Homo sapiens: one gene and its partner. The protein of the gene in region 1 interacts with the protein of each later gene in a biochemical or structural test. Each region holds a gene or a part of one and is shown on either strand. Other genes may lie near its edges.

Region 1 (3,500 bases):
GATGCTTTAGTAAAACTCATGGTCCCTGGATATAATTTTCATTTTCAAGTTTGATTCTTGTTTTTTTCTTCATCTTGAGCTCTAAAATGGTTAGTGCCTGTAAAAGAACCAACTACCTGGTCGCATTTCTTAAATGAAGTTTTAAAGTATGTATAAAAAAAAATTGAAGAAACGAAAAAGGCAGAATTTAAGAAATGTTGGTACTTAATATTTTGTAAGAACTCATGTTAAACATTTAAAATGATACACTGTGTCCTCATTATTAATTATCTCATGGTTTTATAGTAGAATGTTAATGGGGAGCTAAAAATTTTTAATTTTATGACTGAACTCAGTGAAATTAAACTATTTTTCATTTCATATCACTTGGTATAATTTGCTTGGCAGTCTCATTTCTTCAGCTGAGATTCAAATGAAAGTTTCAGTCTATGGAAAGTTTTACCATGAAAACTAAAACTGTAGATTCATCTCATTCTTTGAATCTTGATACAAAGGGAGAAACTATTTACATACAGAACAATGTGCAAAATAGAATTTAAAAGACAAAGATAAATAGGAAAGCACTTGGTAACTGGAGAGACAGGCGATGTTTGAAAGTTAGAAGCAATTTTGATTTATTATCAGATGACTGAGCCCTAATTATTTTAATAGTCCTTATAATCTCTCTTTTTCACCTTCACTTCAGTCAATTCCATATAAACCTTAACCGCTTTTAAGCTTCTTCATGTCCCTATCAAAGAAAAAGAACAACCATTTAGGAAAAGTTAACTTTTCTCTAGTATTGTTTAGTAATTCTTTTTAAATTCCTAAATTATCTTCTGAAATAGTTTTTGAAATAGGCATATTTTTAGGACAATATGTCTACAAGTCATCATTCTTAATAATTAAGGTAAGATAGATTAGTTCAGAAAAAATAGGACATTTTTTGGACTAAACGAGTTACTTTAAAGTACTATGTCATTATGGCCAGGGGCTGATGTTTATATTCAGATAAAGTCATAAATTGCTCAGAAGAAAATACAACACTGTATATCTACTTGAATACCAACAATTCATACATAGGTCAAAACCGTATTTTCTTTTTCATCACATTTAAGGAGTACAAGGAGTACAAATAGTAATCCATTTCGGTGTATACATTAATGCAAAGAAGACATAACCCCCAAACTCAAGGCATTTAAAACATTTTCTTGCTTTATGCCAAAGAAACTTTTTCAAAGCACTACCTTGAATTGCTTTTCCAGTCGTGTCTTTCCTCCTACTCCTGGTATAAGGATGCTGTTAACATAGCTGTGCAGCTGATTTGAAGATACTTCAGTCTCCTTTCCAAGAATGGCTTCCAACAAGGCATCATGGATGAAAATGTACTGCTCCTAAGAGGTACAATACATGGTAGTCACTGAGGGAGTGTTAAGGGTTAGCCACTCATTCATGAAGTGTACCTTAGTTTAATTCTGCTGCTAACAGGGACCTCCCAGTGATTTCCTTCAAGCACTTACAGCTAGGTGATTTGCTCCAATACTCACTTTATCAGTCTTAACTTATTTTACGGTAGAGACTGTGTTAAGTTTAGCTCTGTATTCTATACTGTGCCTGGATCACGGTATTCTATACTGTGCTTATTGCTTCAACTCAATAAGCAAACAAAAAATCGTGTTCAATGAAGGGTTTTAGAACCATCCTCTCCTATGTATTTCTCAGGCCAGACAACATGTTTAACTCCCCCTACCATCTAACACAGCTCTTGAAACAACTGTATCTCTTTCGTAAGTACTTGTGTAGTTATTTAGGAATCCAAATGTTAAGATCCATACAGAAATGGAAAACTGTGATCCGTAGAATAGGATCATTGTCAGAATATCTTCTAATACAAACCTGTAAATTACTGCAAGCCCTAAAAGAATGAATCTGTCTCTTCATTATCATTTAACAAATTTCAGTTACAGCATTTGCCAGAATGTCGTGAGGACGCTGGCAGCTACTCCTTACCTCAGTCTGGACGAGGTAGTTACGCTGTGTCCTGATATGCTTCAGGAATCCCAGGACGTTAACTGTGCTTTTGTCTTTTATCTGTTGCAGCATGCTGTCTATTACAATATAGGTGCCTGTTCTGCCCACACCAGCACTGTAAGAAATGAAGACACTCAACTGGCACTTTTGTTTTATCATACTGTTAACTTTGGATTCGAAAAATTCCAATCTAAACCCCATTTATTTTATTATTTTTCTGAGATGAGATGGAGTTTCACTCTGTTGCCCAGGCTGGAGTGCAGTGGCGCAATCTCGGTTCACTGCAACCTCCGCCTCCCAGTTCAAGCAATTCTCGAGCCTCAGCCTACCGAGTAGCTGGGATTACAGATGTGTACCACTACACCCGACTAATTTTTTATCTTTAGTAGAGGTTTCACCGTGTTGGCCAGACTGGTATCGAACTCCTGACCTCAGGTGATCTGCCCACTTTGGCCTCCCAAACTGCTGGAATTACATGTGTGAGCCACCACTCCCAGCCTAAACCCCACTTAGATAACCTTAGATGACGTACGTTATTCACTTAGCATTGCAACATAAATCACAGAACAAGCGACATGTATTTGAGTACCAAAGTTTAAAACAAACAAAAAAGAGGCAAGAATGCATTTTCAAATGAAACAGAATAAAAGCATTTTTAAACAACCAACTAAAGTCATTTACTGTGGCTGACAAAAAACAAGCTTTATACAAGGATTTCCCAGTGCTTTTGAAAAGGTATTTTATATGGAACATTTAAACTAAAAATTTAAAAATGAAATATTTTCATATATACTATAAATATTGTTATTTAGAAGAACCTTTCAGAAAAGCCATTTACAAAAACACAATCTCTATTCTAGTGTGGAAAGTTCTTGTGTTTAACGTCATATTTTTATTTATTAGGATCAGGCTACAATTTTCCTATAAACAATGGGGATTTTGTAATTTTTTCTTTTTTTTTTTGAGTCATGATCTTGCTCTATCATCACCCAGGCTGGAGTGCAGTTATGTGAACACAGCCCACTGCAGCCTTGACCTACTGGGTTCAAGGGATCCTTCTGTCTCAGCCTCCCATGTAGCTGGGACCACAGGCATGTGCCACCATGCTGGCTAATTTTTTTATTTTTAATTTTTGTAGAAATGGGGTGTCACTTTGTTGCCCAGGCTGGTCTCAAACTCCTGGGCTCAAGTGATCCACCCACCTCAGCCTCCCAAAGTGCTGGGATTACAGGAGTTGGCCTCCATGCCTGGCTGATATTATTAATAAGAAGATTTTATAAAAACTAGGGATTGATCTAGTTTTTTAAAAATCACAGAAGCAGCAGATGATTTCTTAATGTTACAGGAATAGAGCCTCTTTAAGACTATCATAGGTCTTATCCATCCCAGTTTCCAGTGGAAGATTCAGCTTCTAAGTGAAAGCAGTAGCAATCATTGTGGTCCAAGGTCACTGAGGCCTAAGTCCCCTGCCCCATCTATTTCACATGTTG
Region 2 (4,409 bases), on another chromosome or scaffold:
CTTCTCCAGCACCCTAAGTCTTAACCATTCACACCCCTGCCACCCCCTGACCCTGCTGTCCCTCTGCTCCTGCCACCCCATGTAAGCCCCCTCTCTCACCTTCTGCTTTCTCGTTGCCACACTCTGCCTCCCAGGTCCTCGCCATCTCCCTATCCCGTGACTATGCATGACTCTCTGCCATCAAGCCTCACCTTCCGCCTTTCTCTTCTCACTGTGCCCAGGCTTAGGAGCCAGACAACCTGGGCTTGAATCCTCTCTCCACAAATTCCTTGCCCCATCACCTTAAGGAAACTACTTAACCTCTCTTACTTTGTTTCTCTCTTTGTGAAATGGGGATAGCTAGCACTTGATGGGGTTGTTACAAAGATTAAATTTGATGATGTATTTAAGCATTTAGCACAGTGCCCGATACAGGGTGTGTGCTCAATGTATGTCGATAATTATTGTTATTATTTAAAATGTCACCTAGTCCCTAGATTTTGATAGTTCTCTGGCAGCTCTCACATATGATCTGCAGCCAGGACCCCTCTTCTGACTCCAGATCATTTGGTGGGGACTCCATGAAGTGGGGCATCTACTCTGGAAGTCTGGTTTTGAAGTTGGTGTGGAAAGTAGCTGCTGTATGATTCGGAGGCCCATTTTATATCCAGCCACTTCCTGGACATCTAATCCCCTGCGTGAGCCAAAGGCACCAAGGGCTTCTCTGCACCCAAAATGGACCTTCATCTCCCCGCAAATCAGCACTGCCCTCCTGACATGCTCATTGCTGCCTGACACTCCCTCAGCTTACAGCGCGGCATCCTTTTCCTCCCTCGCTCCCTCCCTCTTTCCTTCCTTCCTTTCCTCTCAAAAAGCCAATCTGGTAAACATTTGTAAGAGTCAAGGGAACCTGTTAAAAGCACTAATGCAATAATCTGGAGAGAAAAAGTTGAGGCCAGAATAGGAGCAGCGATCATGGGGTGAGGAAGTGGGGCAGGAACAAGAAGGCTGTTTTGGAGTAGAATGGATAGATCTGAGGCGGCCTGCGCAGACAGACCTAGTTCAACACATGGCTGTATCTCCTTCTAGTTGTGTGTCCTTAGGCAAGTTATTCGGTGTCTCTGAGTCTCAGTGTTTTCATAATGCAGGGTAATGTGCCCTGACAGAAAGGTGGCTGTGAGAATTAGAGGTCATGCTATGAAGCGTGTGGCGGGGAGCAGGTGCTTCAGTGCCAGTGCCATTTTTTTTTTTTAATAAGAGAGTGGTGAATGAGGGCAGGGGCAGAGAGCAGGATGATGCCCAGGTAGTCTCCCTGACCTGGGTTTCGGCCCCTTCTGTCTACCCCCACACTGCATGGGAAGAGTGCACCCCCAAACCATGTCTGGCCATGTCACTTCCTCATCTACCATCTTTTGGGACACCCTCATGCCTTTATTGCTTAATCCTTGTGCCCCAAGCTACCCAGGGGCCTGAACTCTGTCCTCCCTGGGCCCTGGCCACTATGGTCATCTGTTGAACTTGGTGTCCCTCAAGCCCAGAGGGTCCCCAGCTTGAAACAAAGATGCAGAAGTGGACTGGATAGGCTGTGTGCCCATGCCTTACCCTGAGTCTCCTGGCAGTGCCCCCCGTGCCCCTGGCTGCACCTCGGCTCCTGACCAAGCAGAGCCGCCAGCTTGTGGTCTCCCCGCTGGTCTCGTTCTCTGGGGATGGACCCATCTCCACTGTCCGCCTGCACTACCGGCCCCAGGACAGTACCATGGACTGGTCGACCATTGTGGGTGAGTAGGGAGAGAGCTGGGGCAGGACAGAGGTGTTGGGTAATAGTGAAGGGATACAGTGAGCAGGAGAGGGAGGGCAAATGGTGCGAGGGGGCTGAAGGGAGCATGGCAGCTTCTAGAAGAGGTGGGGGCTGAATAATGTGTGCTTTACACCCCACGCCCAGTGGACCCCAGTGAGAACGTGACGTTAATGAACCTGAGGCCAAAGACAGGATACAGTGTTCGTGTGCAGCTGAGCCGGCCAGGGGAAGGAGGAGAGGGGGCCTGGGGGCCTCCCACCCTCATGACCACAGACTGTCCTGGTGAGAGGCCAAGAGTCATCCCTTCCTGTCCCCCCAAGGGTTACTTTCCCGTCGACCCCAGGGACCCCTGCCTTTCCCACTGGAGGTTGTTCTTCCTTGTTCACTGGGGATCATTGTCCTGTCCAGCCCCAAGTACCTACTGGACAGTTCTGACCCCTGACCTCTGGCCCCAGAGCCTTTGTTGCAGCCGTGGTTGGAGGGCTGGCATGTGGAAGGCACTGACCGGCTGCGAGTGAGCTGGTCCTTGCCCTTGGTGCCCGGGCCACTGGTGGGCGACGGTTTCCTGCTGCGCCTGTGGGACGGGACACGGGGGCAGGAGCGGCGGGAGAACGTCTCATCCCCCCAGGCCCGCACTGCCCTCCTGACGGGACTCACGCCTGGCACCCACTACCAGCTGGATGTGCAGCTCTACCACTGCACCCTCCTGGGCCCGGCCTCGCCCCCTGCACACGTGCTTCTGCCCCCCAGTGGTATGTGCAAGGCGCAAGGATAGCTGGGGGTTGGGGGAGGACGTGGGACACAGGGACACATGAGACCTAGGAGACACGGGAGGCTGTAGGAGATTAATGGACATGGAGAGGACACAGGACACACATAGGGTATTAGGCAGACGTGACCCCAGCGGGGACATGGGACTTGGGGAAGATCCAGGGTACCAGGAGGACACAGATCACCAGGAGCATGTGGGGAGAGCATGGGGAGGTCAGGGTTCATGGCGAGAACCAGGGTCATGGGAGGGCATGAGACTTGCGGAACACAGGGCATGGGCGGATGTGGAGAGGACTTGGGATACAAGAAGTACAAGGAGAAGCAGAAGCTTGAGGGTGAAAGTGGCCTGGGGGAATGGAGAGGAATTCAGTCTGGTGGGGAGGAGGAAGTTGGCAGGGTGGCCCCTGTGCTTGGACCCACAGAGGAGGGAGCACAGCTAGAGCAGATGTGTCCAGCCCCACAGCTACATAGCCCGGTCCTATCTGAGCCTTGCCTTCCCCCACCATCTCCCCAGGGCCTCCAGCCCCCCGACACCTCCACGCCCAGGCCCTCTCAGACTCCGAGATCCAGCTGACATGGAAGCACCCGGAGGCTCTGCCTGGGCCAATATCCAAGTACGTTGTGGAGGTGCAGGTGGCTGGGGGTGCAGGAGACCCACTGTGGATAGACGTGGACAGGCCTGAGGAGACAAGCACCATCATCCGTGGCCTCAACGCCAGCACGCGCTACCTCTTCCGCATGCGGGCCAGCATTCAGGGGCTCGGGGACTGGAGCAACACAGTAGAAGAGTCCACCCTGGGCAACGGTGAGAGGGCAGGGCCCACAGGACCCCCCGGGCTCTGAGCGGGGAGAGCTCAGCACGCTCTCCTTCCACATCACCCCCTACTGTGGAGCTAGGGCATCCCAGGCCCCTCCTGACAAAGAGTCAGCCCCAGTCCTGGGGACTCAGCCTTCCATTCTCATGATCCACTGTCCCAGGGCTGGGAAAATCATGTCGCCCCTCTGACACCCCTCATCCCTTCCTTCATGTGGCCCAAGTGATTTCCTGACAGTCCTGGCACTGGGATCTTTCACCTCTCCCTCTGTGTAACCCCATGGTGGCCTCTGGGTTCCCTGACCCAGGTGTCCCCACAATCTGCCCCTCTCACTGTGTCCAGGGCTGCAGGCTGAGGGCCCAGTCCAAGAGAGCCGGGCAGCTGAAGAGGGCCTGGATCAGCAGCTGATCCTGGCGGTGGTGGGCTCCGTGTCTGCCACCTGCCTCACCATCCTGGCTGCCCTTTTAACCCTGGTGTGCATCCGCAGAAGCTGCCTGCATCGGAGACGCACCTTCACCTACCAGTCAGGCTCGGTCAGTGACCCGCCCCGCCCCTGGGTGCATGCTTGCAGCCCGTGTTTATGTTTCTACCTGTGTACACACAATACCTTGTACACCTTGTGTGTGTGTGTGTGTGTGTGTTTATGTTGCAGGTATAAGATTACACTCAACAATGTTCAAGGGTACAAAATATAATTTTCTTTATTTCTCTAAAACTGAATTCAGCTCATGAGCCCATTTATATTAGTGGTGAAATATTTAATATTCCCATTTCAAAAGAATTCCGTGATGACCATATTTCACAATGGACATTCCAGTTTTGGGCTCCGTCAATTGGAGATTTTCCTCTCCCCTCTTTTATTTCTCCCTAGCGGTTATCTAGGCCTAGATAGCAAGGTGATCAAATGGAAGGGCACTTGGGGTTCATGCTGGCTTTTGTCCTTGCAGGCCTTCCTGGGCTCGGGAGCCAGCCTCTGTCTGCACACATCTTTGGCTGATGTTCTTAGCCCTGCTGTGGCCACCTGCCAGTAGGCCAGTCATGCTGTG

What was found. The genes of interacting proteins can lie anywhere in the genome.
Region 2: of the proteins of PTPRG (region 1) and TIE1, one has a biochemical effect on the other in vitro, tested with the Homo sapiens proteins (one large-scale study listed by IntAct).

Annotation. Positions count from the first base shown.
Region 1 is NC_000003.12:62,271,571-62,275,070, reverse strand, and holds part of PTPRG (receptor-type tyrosine-protein phosphatase gamma isoform 1 precursor), read right to left. Parts: intron 2,126-3,500; coding exon 1,990-2,125; intron 1,374-1,989; coding exon 1,227-1,373; intron 1-1,226.
Region 2 is NC_000001.11:43,310,073-43,314,481, forward strand, and holds part of TIE1 (tyrosine-protein kinase receptor Tie-1 isoform 1 precursor), read left to right. Parts: intron 1-1,598; coding exon 1,599-1,757; intron 1,758-1,921; coding exon 1,922-2,059; intron 2,060-2,232; coding exon 2,233-2,529; intron 2,530-3,062; coding exon 3,063-3,353; intron 3,354-3,705; coding exon 3,706-3,896; intron 3,897-4,310; coding exon of another isoform or gene 4,311-4,394; exon of another isoform or gene 4,395-4,409. UniProt on the Homo sapiens protein: Transmembrane tyrosine-protein kinase that may modulate TEK/TIE2 activity and contribute to the regulation of angiogenesis.